2 separate regions of the Homo sapiens genome follow, and region 2 is linked to region 1. The links come from fine-mapping of genetic effects on gene expression. Tissue or cell type: testis. Region 1 holds a variant in brackets; the other region holds the start of a gene. All regions are shown on one strand. Distances are from middle to middle.

Region 1 (8,103 bases):
CCCTAGACCCATATCCACCCCTTTCCTACCTCCTTGCAAATCTTAAGGGCCACTTAATTGGACATCGAGCCATTCAGGGTTAACTGATTCCATCCCACCCATGGGCGTTTGGTACAAACAAAAATTTGTTGGGCTAAAATGAAGAAGACATTTACTTGTTGCAATTACATTTCTCTGAGCATCCTTTTCCCCATAAGCCAAATGAGATGGTTAGACTGGGTTATCTCAGATGATCTAATTGGCTAGTTTCTTTCTGGGGCTTCCCAGCCAGACTCTAAATTCCTAAGTGGTATATTATGCCAGGTATGACTCCTTGCACATTCTGGGCTAGTAGTTGCTCAATAAATTTGTTGTTGTTTTTTAAAAACTCTGAGCTGTTATGACAGTTTTTAGACCTGCGTTTGGACTTGGGAAATGATTAATTCTAACTTCTTAAGGCACCACCAACAAATTAGGCAGTTAATTTTCTCCTTCCGAAGGAAAACCACTTTTCCTTTTTAGTATTTATCAGTTAGGCATCCTAAAATGCTCTTAATATCTAGTGTCAGTACAGATTGAACATCCCTAATCTAAAAACCCAAAATGTGAAATGCTCCAAAATCTGAAACTTTTTGAGTGCCAGTGTGACGTTCAAAGGAAATGCTCATTGGAGCATTTCAGATTTTGGATTTTCATGTTAGGGAGGCTCATTGTAGATCCTCTCTCCCCCTGCCATATTAGGGATGCCCTAAATATAATGCAGATATTCCAAAATCTGAAAAAAATCCAAAATTCAAAAATTCTAAACACCTAAGCATTTCATATAAGGGATACTTAACCTGGATATGTAAACTTAGTGCAGCCATTGTGTTCTCTGTTAGTGTGTTCAAGTGGACTCTTGCACATACATTCACTTTATTTTTGGACAAAGCCTTCCCACACTCTCCTTGGTGTAGGGGAGTTGCCTAGAGAGTGGCTCACTATTTCACTTACCCATTGGTTCTGTTTTCTGAACTTCTCTAGGTTGCCTTCTTATGCACAATGACAATGGGCACACCATTTTCTGGCAGCTGACATTCCTCTAGACTGGTGCTTCTCTACCCTGGCTGCATGTTAGAAATATCTTGGGAGCTTCTAAATAGTGTTGAAGTTCTAGCTCCACTTCAGACTCATTAAATCAGAGCTCCTTGGGGGTAGGATCCAGGTAGGGATATTTTTATAAGCTTCCCAGATGGTTCTGATATGCATCTCAGATACACCACAATTCTAGGGCATTTCCTAATCCTAGTCCTTTTTTCCCGTCTTCCCTGCCCCGTTCTGCCACTTGCTAGCTACCCTAGCAGTGCCTGCCTTAAAACTCAGACACAAGCCTGTTGGTCCAAGCTGAGAAGGCATCAGGAAGTGTTTATGGGAAGGAGTTCCAACGGCACCCTCTTGAGCTGGCCGTTGATACTGACCTCCTTATGTTTGCACAGATGGAACTACTGTTTTAAGAGACTTTGTTTTATTTGGTTTGCCAGTGTGCTAGTCAGGGTGAGTGGAAACCTTGCAATGATGATTATTTCTCTATTTTCAGTGAATTTTGAGCAAGAGGCAGTTGGTGACATATAAGGTGGGCATAGGACAGAATCAAAAGACAAAACACAGTGAAAGCTGCAGCAAGGCAAAGCTGAGCACAAGCAAGGCCATCTGTGACAGCCCGTCGCCTAACCGTTTAGCAATGTTTCACCCTTCTTGCTTTTTGAAAAGTCATGTTGGTTGAGCTTGGTAGCTCATGCCTGTAATCCTAGCACTTTGGGAGGCTGAGGTGGGTGGGTTGCATGAGTCCAGGAGTTATAGACCAGCCTGGGCAATATGGTAAAACCCCGTTTCTACCAAAAATACAAAAATTAGCCTGGGGTGGTGGTGTGCATCTGTAGTCCTAGACACTTAGGGGGCTGAGGCGGGAGGATCGCCTGAGCCTGGGAAGTTGAGGCTGCAGTGAGTCCAAGATTGCGCCGCTGCACTCCAGCCTCCTGGGTGACAAAGTGAGACCCTGTCTCCAAAAACAAGAAAAAGAAAGAAAAGTCATGTTTACAATTAGTGCCTGCCCTAGGCTACCCAACCATGTGGGTTGGGTGGATGAGGTCATGCATATTTCTGCTTTATTGATAAGGAAGAGCAGCTCTAGGGAGCTCAGGATTGACCTGTGGCCACTTTGTTGGTTTGGGGTAGAGCCAGACCAGACAGACGTCGGGATTCTGTACTTCCTCACAAATGCTTTCTCGTCTGTATCCTCTTTCCCAAAACTTTTCTTTATTTTCCCTCCTTCCCTTCCCCTTCTGTCCTTTCCTCCCTCCTTTCAATTGCCTCAGGACTGGCGGGGAGGGGATGGAGTTGTTGAGAGAAAACTGTGAGTTTCTGTTTTTAAAGTTCAGAGTGTTAGGTTCCATAAATGCCAGGCCATGAGAGCATTCCTGGAGACGCCTTCAGAGAAAAAAAGAAATCACATCTGTTTTTGTCTGCCTTTATTCTTCATTCAACAGCAGGTTTTTTTAATTCCAAGGAGAAGGATGTCTGCCGTGTATTTCTGTTTCATGGTGAAAGCTCAGAAGTGGTCAAAGGAGACCTTTGTCCCGGCCGTGATCACCCTTGGCTCTTTGGTGGTGGTCCGAGGGCTCTGTAAGACCATATTAGCCAAGTCTTTAGCCCCCGCTTGAAGTCTGTGGGGGCAAGGAACCCAGAACCCAGCCCAGCCAGATGTTCTGGCCCTTGTTCTCTGTCCCTTGCTAGCCCCTGCCTGGCTTGGCCCATTATCTGCTCTGTGCTTTGCAGGAAGGAGGAGACAGTTACTGTCTATCCCGCAGACGTGGTGCTCTTTGAAGGGATCCTGGCCTTCTACTCCCAGGAGGTACGAGACCTGTTCCAGATGAAGCTTTTTGTGGATACAGATGCGGACACCCGGCTCTCACGCAGAGGTGCGTTCTAAAAGCCTCAGGTGGCCCTGTTGGTGGCCACCTTGAGGGCGGGGGAGCTGGGAGCCTGTGACAGGACCCCACCCGCCTGAGTCTGAAGCCCATGCCTTCCCTGAGGCAGCTGTGT[G/A]TCGCATGGTCCAGCCCGGCTGCGTCAGTCCAGCCCCAGGATATCCTGCTGCCCAGACACTTGGTAACATTTGAGAAGGGATTAGTCACTTACTGTTTGGGATAACGAAAGGCTTGTGAGGTCACAGAGACTAAATAAGACACTGACATCTGGTTTTGCCTGGAAAAGTTTGATTAAATGCTTAGTTCCTTGCAATTTGTTTATAAGACATCAAAATGAAGATGCTCTGATTTGGGGAACTAACTGTAGGACCCCCGAGGATAGGATCCCCTGTGCCTGAAGTACTGGGCAGCTCATCCTGTTAGCCTGCTTCTCTAGCCCTTTATTTTCCAGCAGGCTTTATGGAGGCATTATCACTCTTTCCAGTCAGCTCAGGAGGGAAGTCAGCTGTGCCCTCCGCAGGCCCTACTAAGTGTGGGCCTGCCTGTGCTAAGTCCCTGTGCTTGTGTGCTGAAGGCACAGCAGTGCCCCTTGGTAGAGGAGCCCAGCCTGTGAACTGAGCTCTACAGGGTATTCAGCAGAGAGTTCGCTTCCACCAGGAGAGATTGGGAGGCTTCATGGAGGAAGAAGGGTTGGGACTTGGATGTGGTGGGGTAGGGTGACGCTATAGGCAACCCATGAAGGTGCACGGCAGAGATGTACAGACAGTGGCTTGTTCCGAGAGTGGCAGGAACCTGGAGTGTACAGAGGGTTGTACGAAGAGACACTACAAAGTAGGTTGGGGTCTGGTTTTAGAGACTGAGATCTCTAGTCTGGTTCTCGGTGGGCAAGGGAGAGCCACTGTGAGGTTCTGAGCGAGGCAAGTGAAGTGGCCACTGTTCTGTGTTGGACACTGGTTCTGACAAAGGAAATGTAAGTGAAGCCTGTAGCTGGAGCAGCTCTTTGGAGACTGCTCTGCTGATCTAGACGAGAGGCAGGGCTGTGGTCCTTAGATGGGTGGGAGAGGGAGCAGAGTTGAGATGAGAAGAGTATTAGCAGAGTTAGAATCGACCAGGACCCAGCAAGGGCAGTGGGTGGAGGCGACTGAATAGAGGAATGAAAGGTGAGAAGGTTTGAGTCTCCGTTGTGTGACAGAGGCAGGGAGACACAGGAAATGACGAGGTTAGCTCCTAGTCACAGGACACATTATTGACAGTTTCAGATATTATAAGCTGTATCCCAGGGCCCTCTGACTTCAAAGTCTGGGTAATTTTCTCTTTTCGGTTCATGAAACAGATCTGTAGTTTATCCCATTTAGCACCGTAATTGTAAGAACTATTCATGAGACCAGTAGAACCTACAGAAACAAGTCCTGAGCTTTGCCCTTCTAAGTAGTAATAGATACATATGCTATTAAGTCAGTGGGAGCTACATCTTGCTCCCAGGTGGGGTGAGGGACAGTTAGTTTTGTGTGATGGAAAAAAGAATGGAATGGGAGGAGACTTTTAGTTCTAGCAGAGCCCTTCCCAGCTAGCTTTGTGACTAGGCTCTTGCGACACCCCGGCTTGGGTTTCTTTATGGATAATACAGGGGAGACAGGCCTGCTTTTAGTGTCACGACTCTGGCTGGGTAAGAGTTGCATGGTCATTTTGGATAGATAATTGAACCCTGAGCCTGACAACCCCTCATGCTTCTGCCCCAGGGCCTGGCTTGTCACCTTAATCCACAAACTCCGGCCCTGCTTTGGTTGATCTGCTCAGTGTCCATGTCAGCTTGTCAAATTAGAGAGGCAGTGTGATACACAGGGACAGATAAATTTTAGAGTCCAGCGAATTGGGCTGAGATCCTGGTTTTACCACTTACTAGATGTGTGGCAAATTGTGCAAATTGGCAAATTGTGTTTTAACTTTTTTGTATCTCATTTTCCTATTAGAATGTGGTCTTATGATTGGTACTTCTGGGATAGTTGTGAAGATGAGAGGTAGTGCAGGTAAAATGCCTGGTGGTGCATTAGTCAATAAATATCTATGTGGCAGATCAGAAATCTGCTTCTGCTGAAGGGGTCGGTGCTGTTCGTTTTCTGAATTTTCTGACAAGACTGGTTAGATCCTCCAAGGGGATCTGCTCCGGTCATGTCCTCAGGAGCTAGTGATGCCCGGACTGATGCCATCACTAGTCCAGCAGTGGTACTCAGTCTCAGGGATGCAGTGCTGCCGAGGGAGGCCTCGCAGCAGGGAGTGCAGGAACCAGCACAGGAGATTAGAACCAAGTTTTGAGCAGCAGCAAGACGCTGGAAATAAAGTGCATCCTAGTGTCTAATTCAAACAGATCATCACGGTGTGGTTTCAACAGAACATTTTCCCTTCCTTTCTTGCATGGGATTCTTATGTGAAATAGGAGCAATTCCTACAATGGTGCTGGCCCTCTGGGGGTTTCTTAGGGCCAGCTCTGCCTCTCCGCCTTCTCTGAACAGGCTGCCTGGGCAGGGCTCTGCTTTCTCATTTCAGATCTGCTAACTTCACATGTCACCTACTGCCGAGTCACTTTCCTGATGGATTCATGGGACTTTTCTGCATGCTATTTCTACAAATTCATTCTCTCTCCACGTAGGACAAAAAACATGCTTGGCATGTGCTTTGTGGAGTGCGGGGGTGCTGGGGTAGGGAGGCTGGTTAGTCAGAAGCAGCTGTTGAGTGAGCTTGAACATTCCTGGAGACTTGAGTTAGCTCCATGATTTTACCCATCTGTCACACCCTCCTGGGCATGTGACCTCCAGATTCTGAGTTGACCCTCATGTGGGAGAGAGATCTGTGTTTGAGTGAAGCAGCCCTGGAAACTACCTCCTTCCTGATGGAAACCCTTGATCTTCTCGGGATTGGTTTCTAGCCTCATTTGCCTTCATATTCCCTCTGTGCTCTTTACCACCACCCAGCTCTGAATACGGGGACAGGGAGGAGGTGGGGCAGGGAGATTCAGGATGGCTGACCCCTCATCTTCCTCATCCATCATTCTCTGGTTCTCATAGAATTAGGGCTGCACTGGGCCTTGGGGGATTCAGCCCATTCTTTTACTATAGAGTAGCACATTTCCTCATCAGATTTTTAAAGTGATTGACTTCACCATTGAGGAATTATCTTTATTTTGGGTCCCTCTAAGTTTCTTTCTTGGCTTTTGGCTAACCAGAAAGAGCAAGTCTGGGTTTGGAAGGGCTGACGTGGAAGCCCAGCAGGGAATGTGGGCAGACTTGTAGCTTCCTGCCCTGTACCCTGTCCTCTGAAAAGGCCTGTCCTGGCCCAGCAAATGTGCTGGGGTCAGAGCAGTGATGGAGGGGCTGGTTTTGAGCCCCTGGGGTTTCCAGGTTGTGCCAAGACCTTGTTTGGACTCAGTCCTTGGCGCGGCCCTGTTTCCTGACTCTGCCTGAGGAGAAGGGCCTTTCAGTGCAGGGAACTGGCTGGCCCTCTGTTGTCCTTGGCTCAGGGAGGCACAGTCTGCCTGAGGTGATAGTTCTATCGGAGGTTCTTGGGGAGCAGAGGTGGGCAAGGCCTTATGATGTTGCATGTTCCCAGTGTCTGGGCAACATTCTGACCCATTCCCCATTTGCTTTTCCAGCGTGGAAGCTGTAGTGGGACTATTCCCTATCTTCCTTGCTTTTTTTCCTTCCTCACGTATGTTGTCCTATGTGCTTGTGTCCTGCTCTCCCTTCCCGCGTGGCAACCTGCCTTTCCAGCTGCCCTGCGGGACTCCTTTTTCCCTTTGCTGCCCCCGCTCAGCTGGGTCTGACCTGCTTACCTGAATTCGAGGTTCCCGCGCTCCCACGGTGTTGAGCTGCTCTGTCAGGGAGGCACTGCCCTCCCAACGCGTCCTCAGGTTCTGTTGTGGTCGTAATCATCATAGAACACATGCTTATTGAACATGTGCTAAGGTGCCAGCTATGGTGCTGAAGAGTTTTATGCACATCTCTGTATTCCTGAATAGTAACTGTATGAGGAAGGTACCATTATTGTCCCTGTTTTATAGTTAAGGAACTTAAGATTCAAAGAGGTTAAAGTCACTTGTCGAAGTTCACAGAGGTAGGAGTTATTGGGGTTAGGATTCAGGTCCAGGGCAGTTTTCCCCCCAGAGCCCATAGAGGTAGAACAAGAAGCAGCTTTTGGGCTACAGAGCAGCTTCACTGTGATTTACCTCCTCCTCCTACTTTCTGCACGACCAGTTTCCTCTCTCCAGTGACAAAACAGCTGAAGCCACCAGATCTACAGAAGGAAGGGGGCTGAAGGCCCAGGCTGAGGGCAGTTAGGAGGACTACGTGACAGGGTGTGGACGTGCACTGTGTGTGCGTGCGTGCGTTTGTGTGCATGTGTGTTTGTGTGTGTGCACGTGTGTGTGTGTGTGTGCTGGGAGAAGGACAAAGCTTCCTCCAGTGCTAAAGCCTTCAGCAATTGTATGAAAAGCATGTGTTGCAAAACAATCCAGCATCAGGCGTTTGCAGGGCTTTAAGTAAAAGCTGCCCAAGCACGGGTGTGTTTGTTTTTTCCCTAGCTCTGATACCCTTTTGATCTGGTTTCCTTTTTTCTTTGGGCTTTATCTGGAGACGTGTGAAGAATTGGAGGCCGCGCTGGCTGTGTGTTTTGGCGGTGCTACTCTGGTTAGCCATGTGTGCCGGAGCTCTGGGGACTTCTGGGGGGTGAGCCACGTGGCAGCTCCTTAGGGCTCCTTCTTAGCGAGTCTCCCAGCAGATCTGCCAGAGCAGCAGGTCGGCAGCAGGAGCCCAGGTCCAGCGTTGCAGGGGTGGGGAAAACCATTTCCTGGCTGGAGAAGGCTGCTGCTGGGCTGGGTGGGCAAGTCCTGACACATTAGCGATCAGCCAACTGTTTTATTACCAGGTCTCCCATGGAGAAAACACTTCGTAAATCGAGGAGCTGTTACAAAAGTCGAATGGCAGCATCATTAGTGCCCAGCTTTCTGGAAATGTGGATTTCCTGACAGTTTTCTCACCTTCTCATCTTATAGATTTCCTGTCAGCCTGGATCATAGCCATGACAGCCTCCCCGTTCCCTGGCCTCTCTGTGCATGCACCTGTGCATGTGTGTATAAAGACAGAATTATTTAGACAAATGGCTTTCAGAA
Region 2 (8,103 bases), 70 kb before region 1:
AGGTCAGAGAGCTTTAACGTCATCCAGCCATCTTTTCAGAACAGTACTTATGATCTGACAAAGCAACTGCTGATTGATAAAAGGTGGAAAGTAATTAGAAAGGTAATACAGAGAACGATAATACTTTGGATACATGATGAAGTGTGATAACATCTATTTTTCTGGCTGGGGAATGAGATAAACAAATAGAGAACTGATCATGGTGCATGAAGCACCTAGAGAAAGAACATTTCAGTTGGGTGCAAAATGTAACGTTCCTTGTCTAGTTCAGAACTATGGCTACTCAAGGGGAGAAGGCAGGCAGACAAAGGACTGTCAACAGCAATGTCTCTTATTGTTCTTTGGCTACAGCTGCACTTGCATACTCATGCTGACTTCGTGCCCAAATGTTAACTAGGCCAGAACTTGATCAGACTGAAATCTGTAAAAGAAAAAAAAATCATCACAGATACCAAGAAAATGTATTTCCTTGAATCTGTTCTAACTCTGAATTTTGTTAAAAAATTAGATTTTTTTTTTTTTTTAGTGGGAGGAAAAGGAGGACAGCTCAAAACCACTTAATTCAGAATCTGCAGTGTAATTGTTATGGTAGGCTCAAATGTGATTTGAACATCCCTAGCTATGGGATTTGGTGACCAAGCTCCCAAGAGAGGATGACACAGCACAGGGAATAGCACAGGCAGCTTGCCTTGCTTTGTAGGGGGCAGAGATGTGAAAGTCCTTGTTGAGGTCAGTGGAGCTGAGAGTACTCTTCATAATTTAAATGGACACGGGTAATTTCCTTACATGTAGGCAAGCCAGCCCTAGGGATAGGAAGGAGAAAGAAAAACAGGGAGTACAGAATGCAGATGGCTGCCCTCTGCTAATTAGGCCTTACCTTTATATAGAATGCTTTTGATTTTTTCAGACACTTTCAGGTATATTAACTCATGCACAGAGGTCAAATATTATTATTATTAAACAAAGTGCAGAGAAGTATTGAGAATTAGCTCAGTTAATGAATTAGCTCAACTAGGTAATAGATGCATTAAGATTAGATGGGGACAGTCACTCTGGAATGCCAGGAAAACAAAACATTCAGAAATAAGTATAGTAACCACATTAATACAATCAAGGGAACAAGCCTTTCCTTCCAAAGTGACGGAAATTAAGTTTACTTGTTGGTGTCCTTACTTCCATATTCATTCATTTGTTCATTCATTTATCATGTATTAAATGCTTCCTACTTGCTTATCATTCTGCTCAGTGGGCCTGGGGGATGTAGAAATGAGACATTATCTCTTTTCATTTGTTGAGGCCCTACAAGGTGCCAGAACCGTTCCAGGCGTTGGGGATATAGTAATTAAAAACAAAACAAAACAAACCAAACAAGAAATGTATAAGCCAGTGTGGAGTAAGTCAATTAAAATTAACAAAGCAAAAGGAAGTAAGTCCTATAATAAAAATGCCTTGATGGATAGAGGGATGGGTAGATGACCAGTTATGTTTTAAAGCAAGTATATATATAGTACGATGTTAGTGATAGAGTCTAGGTGGTGGGTATACTGGTGTTTGCTGTAAAATCTTTCAACTGTGCTCGAAAATTTTTATGATAAAATATTATGGAATAAACACTATAGGAATGACAAGGAAGATGCAGATTTGAGAAAAGTTTATGAAAGACATGGCATTCTTTTTTTTTTTTTAAGAGACAAGTCGATAGAGGAGTGCAATGGCATGATCACAGCTGCAACCTCGAACTCCTGGGCTCAAGTGATCCTCCTGCCTCAGCCTCTGGTGTAGCTGGGACTACAGGTGTGCACTACCATGCCCAGTTAATTTTTGTACTTTTTGTGGAGATGGGGGTCTCATTATGTTGCCCAGGCTGGTCTCAAACTCCTAGCCTCAAGTGATCCTCACTCTTCTGCCTCCCAAAATGTTGGGATTACAGGCATGAGCCACCCCACTGGCCTTTGGCATTCCTTTATCCTCCTCCTCTTCTCCTTAACTACCTAATATCCCCATGCTAACCCTTAGCTGTAGGTTCAACTTCCAAATTCCAATGGGCTATAAAGAGTTCTACAAAAGTCCATGATGACTAATAAATCTATCTAGTAGAGAAAAGACCTTTTGGAGAAGAGGCTAACTCTAGGACCACCTAAAACTCACCCACTCCATAGCTATTTGGTAAGGCACCCCTTTAGGAAACTTCACCCAAATGCCTGCTTCTGGGTACCAGGTAGTGGCCACTCTCCCCATCTTTGTCTCCTGTCTGAGCTGCTACCGAGTTTGATGTTAGATGGTGACATAAAATACAGTAATTCCTAGATATATGCGGAGGGACTGGTCCCAGGACAGCCTACATGTAACCAAATCCACACATGAAGTCCCACAGTCAGTCCTGAGGAAACTGCACAAATATTGTGTTTTCCATCTGCCCTTGGTTTAAAAAAAAAGCTGCATAAAAGTGAACCTCACAGTTTGAACCAGTGTTGTTCAAGTGTCAACTTTAATTTAAAAGTGAAAAAAGTTTGTTTTCTCTGGTATCCTTTTTTTTGTTTTGTTTTGTTTTTGTTTTTGTTTTTTGACACAGGCTCTGGCTCTGCTGACCAGGCTGGAGTGCAGTGGGGAGATCATGGCTCACTGCAGCCTCGATTTCCCTGGCTTGAGAGAAAATTATTTTTTTCAAAATAATCTTCAATTTAAGGTAATTTACTAAGTTTCAAAAGATAATGCTATTGACGTAAATTCTGTTTTAGATTGTAGGCCCCATCAGCTCATTGATACTAGTCCCAAGTTCACAGGAGAAGAGACTGGAAGTTACTAGGCTAGTCCTGCCTCTCTCAGGTGTGTCCCAGCAAAACTTTTCTTTCCAGTTTCAGCGCTTTAGAAACCTTTTCTCTTCAAACACTAATACAGGGCCTAGACTGTACCAGCACTGTTCTGAGAACTTTACATACACTAATTCATTTAATTCTCACAAAAATCCTGGGATGTAATTGCCATTATTATTCCCATTTAACAGATAAGAACACTGAAGCACAGAGAGATTAAGTAACTTGCTCAGGGACCTGGATGTGAATGCAGAAATCTGGCTCCAGAGGTGGAGTCTGAAACTGCCTTTCTAAGTGACTGATTGCCAATCTCTGGAAAACCGTTCAATTGAAGATATTAATGGATCAAAATGTCAGTATGTTTTCAGATACCCTAACTCCATAGGAAGCTCAGTGTATGGGATGAGATACTGTGGTTTAGAAGGGAATTGCTTTTCCAACGGAGGGCACCCTTCAGATAAGCCCCTCAAATTGCCCTTCACTAGAGAGTCGCACGAGGACAGGCCTGCTAAAAAGGATGGCGCTGGGGGGTTTCCAAGACAGGAAATATCTAAAGCCAGCGGCTGACATATTATCTTGGCGAACGGGAGAAGGGAAAAAGAACCCTCATTTTTTGGAAACACAAGTTTTTAGCCTGGATAATGGGTAAATGACATTAACTCTTCGTTCCACACTAATCTTTCAAGCTTGTTCAAATTTTGCTTCTCAAACCTGGGCCATTCCTTCTTATCTAATCTGCCTATTATTTCCTTCAAGCTTTTTATCCCTTCTGAAAATAGGTGGTAGCATACCAAATTAAAATACAGAACAGCCTGTTTCTTTCCCCCAGGGTCCACTAGGGCGCGTCGGAGAAAGGGTTAACCGGGCGGGTGGGAGGGAAGGTCGGGCTCACACCTTTCGCAGAGACCTCGGGCGGCGGCGGGGCCCGGGAGGGGCGGAGGCTGGGGCCAGACGCCTCGCCGCCTCCGCCTCGGCGAATAGCAGCGCGCTGCCCGCCCGGATTGGAGCAGCAGCATCACGCTGACCTCTGCCTGGGATGTAAACCGGACCAGCCGCTGCGGGCAAAGGAAGGCTCTTGGCTCCTTCGGGAAACCCAGCCCCGTCACCGGGCTCCGAGCGGCTCGCAGGCGAGCGACAGCGGCCTCAGCCCCGGCAGCGCCCAGCGGCGGCTGCGGAAAGCGGAGGGAGTCCGACGCGGGCGCGGGCGGGGAGCGTGCGTCCGTTCGCACAGGCAGCGGGAGGAGGGGCGGCGCGAACCATGGCCGGGGACAGCGAGCAGACCCTGCAGAACCACCAGCAGCCCAACGGCGGCGAGCCCTTCCTTATAGGCGTCAGCGGGGGAACAGCTAGCGGCAAGGTACGGCGGGGCCCGGAGCCGCGCTCCCTTCCCGGCTTCTGTCCCTGGGCGGCGCATGTGGCCGGCGGCCGCGGGCCGTGTCAGTTGCGGCAGCCACCGCGTGGCCCGCGCGCCTCCGCTCCCGGCCGCGCTCCAGCGCCGAGTGCGCCCCGCGCGGCCTGGGGGCGCTGCGGCGGGGGCAGGCGAAGACTCGGGCCTTGGGGGTTCCGGGGGTACGCGGCCACGATCGCAGGGCGGGAGTGCTCCTCCGGCTTTTCTCCCCCCGCGTTAATAACTCGTGGCCGGGGTCCTATGGGGGAAGGGCAGGGAAGCGGATGCTTATTGTTTTGCAACTCCAGTGTCGGGGGAGAGGGCTTTCCGCAGGATCCCCCACTAACCCCCGATGGACTCCCTCAAGCCCCGGTCTGGCACAGACGTGCTCGCCCCGCGGCGCAGCCTGGTGCCGAGGGCGGAGCGAGCCGGGAAGCGCGGCCGAGAGGGCGAGGGTGGCGGGAACGCGCGAGGCGGCATCCCGGGGAAGGGGAGCCCAGTGTGGGGCTGCACGCAAGGGCTGGGGATTACAGGGGTTTCCGGGTAAAAGTCTGAGAGCCAAATAGGTGCCGTGACATCAATGAAACGATAATAGTAGGGGCTTCTGTTTTTTAAGGTTATAAGAGGAAACGTGGTCGGCTTCAATGAGAAAGTTGTACTGGCTCCAAGCTCTTCGGTGTCCAGGACGTACGCGTCTTGGATCCACGGAAGGGGGTCATCGTATGGGTGTCTGACCCTCTTAGGAGCCTGTTTCCTTTGTTTTATCCGCAAGGCAAGGAGAGACAAGGGAAATGACTTCCTAGCTTTACCCGGGGTTTTTTCTGCAGGTGGAGAAGGGTGGAGTCCTCCCAGATGGTTCTTTCTTTGCTCCCCTAACAGCCTTTAAGATGTGGCTACTTGTTTTTCCCACCGTTTAACACCCTCCAACTTCATTTGGAGCACGGGTTCCTCAAGGGATCCTGAGAGCTGGGTGCTGGGTGCTGGTTTGGAGAGGCAGGATGATGCTTCTCCCGGCTGGGGAGAGCAGAGCAGGAAGGCTGGTTGGCGCCATGAGGAAAGAGCCACGAGGTTTTAGCTCCCGAACCGACTCGTCAGTAGCCCCTCCTCCATGTTGGTTTTACATTTTTCCCTCCTGGTCTGGACTACTTTAGCGCAAGGAGCCCAGCCAGACACGGCGGCTGGCGCTGCTGGACTTCTTTATTGATGAAGTTGATCTCGTCCGTAGCTCCCGGGGTTAGGAATCGGCCTGCTTTAGGTCCTGAAGTTTCTGTTCTGTGTGCTCCCTGGTTGAAGGCTTTTAAAAAAATTTGTAATTTTTGAGTATGTTCTTTACTATGACTTATACTAGTAATTCAAAGCAAAACCAGAATGCTAGCCCTTCAGGAAGCTTTACCTGTTCTTTTAGAATTATTCTTGCTCTTCTGGCATATTCCTGTTGGATTGGGAGCATTTTTTGTTGTTGTTGTTCATGGCTGTTTTCCCAGCCCTCCTAGCACAATGCCTGCCTGGCATGTAGTGGGGTCCAAATTTTAAGCTGAAGTCCAGTCCTCCTAAAGTGGGGAGGAGGCTTAAACTTGCATATGAGCTTTTAGAAACAAAATGATCTTGGTAATCATCTGAATAATTTAGTTACCACGAGGGTGAAAACTGCGACCCTAAAAGGTGAATAACTCTGTTATTGTTCTTCTTGTGTGTTTCTCAGTCGTCACCTGTTCTAACTTGATAATCAAGCTTTTGGTGTTACTTGGGTAAAGTGAGGGATGGGATAGTGGTGAGCCAATGTGGGAGTAGCTAATTCTCTGCTATTTTTATCCAGGAGGAAGAGTGTAGAAACTCTCAAGAAAGGAAGGGTCCGTTTTTCTGCAGTTTTCAAAGCATGTTGTACATTTTTATTTATTAATTTAATTTTTGAGACAAGGTCTCGCATTTCCACCTAGCCCAGAGTAAGTGGCACTGTCACAGCTCACTGCAGCCTCAGCCTCAACCTGGAGTAACTGGGAGTACAGGCTGGCACTATCATGACTGGCTAATTTTTTTGTTTGTTTGATTTGTTTTGTTTTTGAGACAGGGTCTCACTCTTTTGCCCAGGCTGGAGTGCCGTGGTGAGATCTTGGCTTACTGTACCCTCCACCTGTTGGGCTCAAGTGATCCTCCCACTTCAGCCTCCAGAGTAGCTGAGACTACAGGCTTGCACCATCATGCCCGACTAATTTTTTTTTTTTTGTAGAGAAGGGGTTTTGCCATGTTGCCAGGCTGATCTCAAATGCCTAGACTTAAGTGATCCGCCCGCCTCTGCCTCCCAAAGTGCTGGGATTACAGGTGTGAGCCACTACCTGGGCTGGCTTTTTAATCTTTATTTTTTTTATTATTTTTTTTTTTTGAGACAGAGTCTTGCTCTGTTGCCCAGGCTGGAGTGCAGTGGCATGATCTCGGCTCACTGCAAGCTCCGCCTCCCGGGTTCATGCCATTCTTCTGCCTCAGCCTCCCAAGTAGCTGGGACTACAGGTGCCCGCCACCACGCCTGGCCAATGTTTTTGTATTTTCAGTAAACACGGAGTTTCACTGTGTTAGCCAGGATGGTCTCAATCTCCTGACCTTGTGATCCGCCCGCCTCGGCCTCCCAAAGTGCTGGGATTACAGGTGTGCGCCACCACGCCGGCAATCTTTATTTTTTGTAGAGACTAGGTCACCATGTTGCCCAAGCTTGTTTGTACATTTTTGACATACGAATGATTGATAGTTTGTCATCCTTTAAGATTATTGATATTTTTGTTATTAAAAAAGTCCAAGACTGGGCCTGGTGGCTCACACCTGTAATCCTAGCATTTTGGGAGGCAGAGACAGGAGGATTGCTTGAGCCCGGGAGTTTGAGGCCAGCCTGGGCAACATAGTGAGACCCCATCTGTATAAAATGAAAATTGTGGTGGGTCGAGAAAGTTATTTTGACCTATGTTTAAAACCAGATTCTCAGCTTGGGCAACATGGTGAGACTTGTTCTCTACAAATAATAAAATTATCCAGGTGCAGTGCTGCAGGTCTAGAGGCTGAGGTGGGAGGAATGCTTGAGTATGGGAGGTCGAGGCTGCAGTGAGCTGTGATTGTGCCACTACACTCCAGCCTGGGTGACAGAGCAAGACCTGTCTCGAACAAAAACCAAAAAAGGTTATGGCTGAGTACGGTGGCTCACACCTCTAGTCCCAGCACTTTGGGAGGCCAAGGAAGGAGGATGCCTTCAAAACCAGCCTGGGCAACAGAGAGAGACCCCGTCTCTACGAAAAATTAAAAATTAGCCATGTATGTGCCACCAGCTTCTCAGGAGGCTGAGGCAGGAGGATGGCTTGAGCCTAGGACTTGGAGGCTGCAGTGAGCTTTGATGGTGCCACTGTACTCCAGACTGGGCAACGTAGCAAGACCCCATCTCAAAAGCAAACCAAACCAGATTTTCATATTTCCCCCTAAAGGACAGGTGTAATAACACTAAAAGGTGGAAAAAAACCCAGGCTAAACTTCTTTGCCTGCATACATATCTGTGACTTTTAGGTGTCATTCTGTTTCCTTTTCATCTTTGCCTGTTCCTTGTTCTGTAACCTCTTCATTGGACAACTAAAATAGCCTCTGAAACGAGAAAAATCTGCTCCATTACACTGCCATCAGAGTGGTCTTCCTTAGGAATAGCTCTGGATGTGCCATTTTCCTTTTTGGAAACCTTGGGTAACTCCCCACTGCTCAGTACAGGTCAAACACTTCAGTACAGTACAAATCCCCTTGGCCCCTAATATGGTCCCAGGCTATTATTTTTATTTTTTATTTTATTTTTTATTGAGATGGAATCTCACTCTGTCACTCAGGCTGGAATGCAGTGGTGCCATCTTGGTTTACTGCAACCTCCACCTCCTGGGTTCA

Direction of the effects. Positions count from the first base shown, and alleles are read on the strand shown. Sizes are in standard deviations (SD) of each study's normalised expression.
As copies of A replace G in region 1, the expression in testis of the gene that starts at base 3,852 in region 2 goes up (moderate effect, 0.58 SD a copy in GTEx).

The links. PIP is the estimated chance that this variant, and not a neighbour inherited with it, causes the effect.
Region 2: UCK2 starts here. The variant in region 1 is fine-mapped to the expression of UCK2 in testis (GTEx, PIP above 0.99).

Annotation. Positions count from the first base shown.
Region 1 is chr1:165,893,397-165,901,499 of GRCh38, forward strand. UCK2 (uridine-cytidine kinase 2) reads left to right here. Exons shown (of 7, transcript NM_012474.5): 4 at 2,794-2,936. Among named protein-coding and RNA genes, the nearest start is that of MIR3658, 10 kb to the right of the region's middle. RefSeq lists an enhancer at 5,125-6,324 and a silencer at 7,296-7,590. The variant G/A (reference allele first, on the strand shown) is at 3,061.
Region 2 is chr1:165,823,763-165,831,865 of GRCh38, forward strand. UCK2 (uridine-cytidine kinase 2) reads left to right here and starts at 3,852. Exons shown (of 7, transcript NM_012474.5): 1 at 3,852-4,170. The coding sequence starts at 4,072. RefSeq lists silencers at 3,641-3,890, 3,971-4,450, 4,511-4,740 and an enhancer at 4,206-4,759.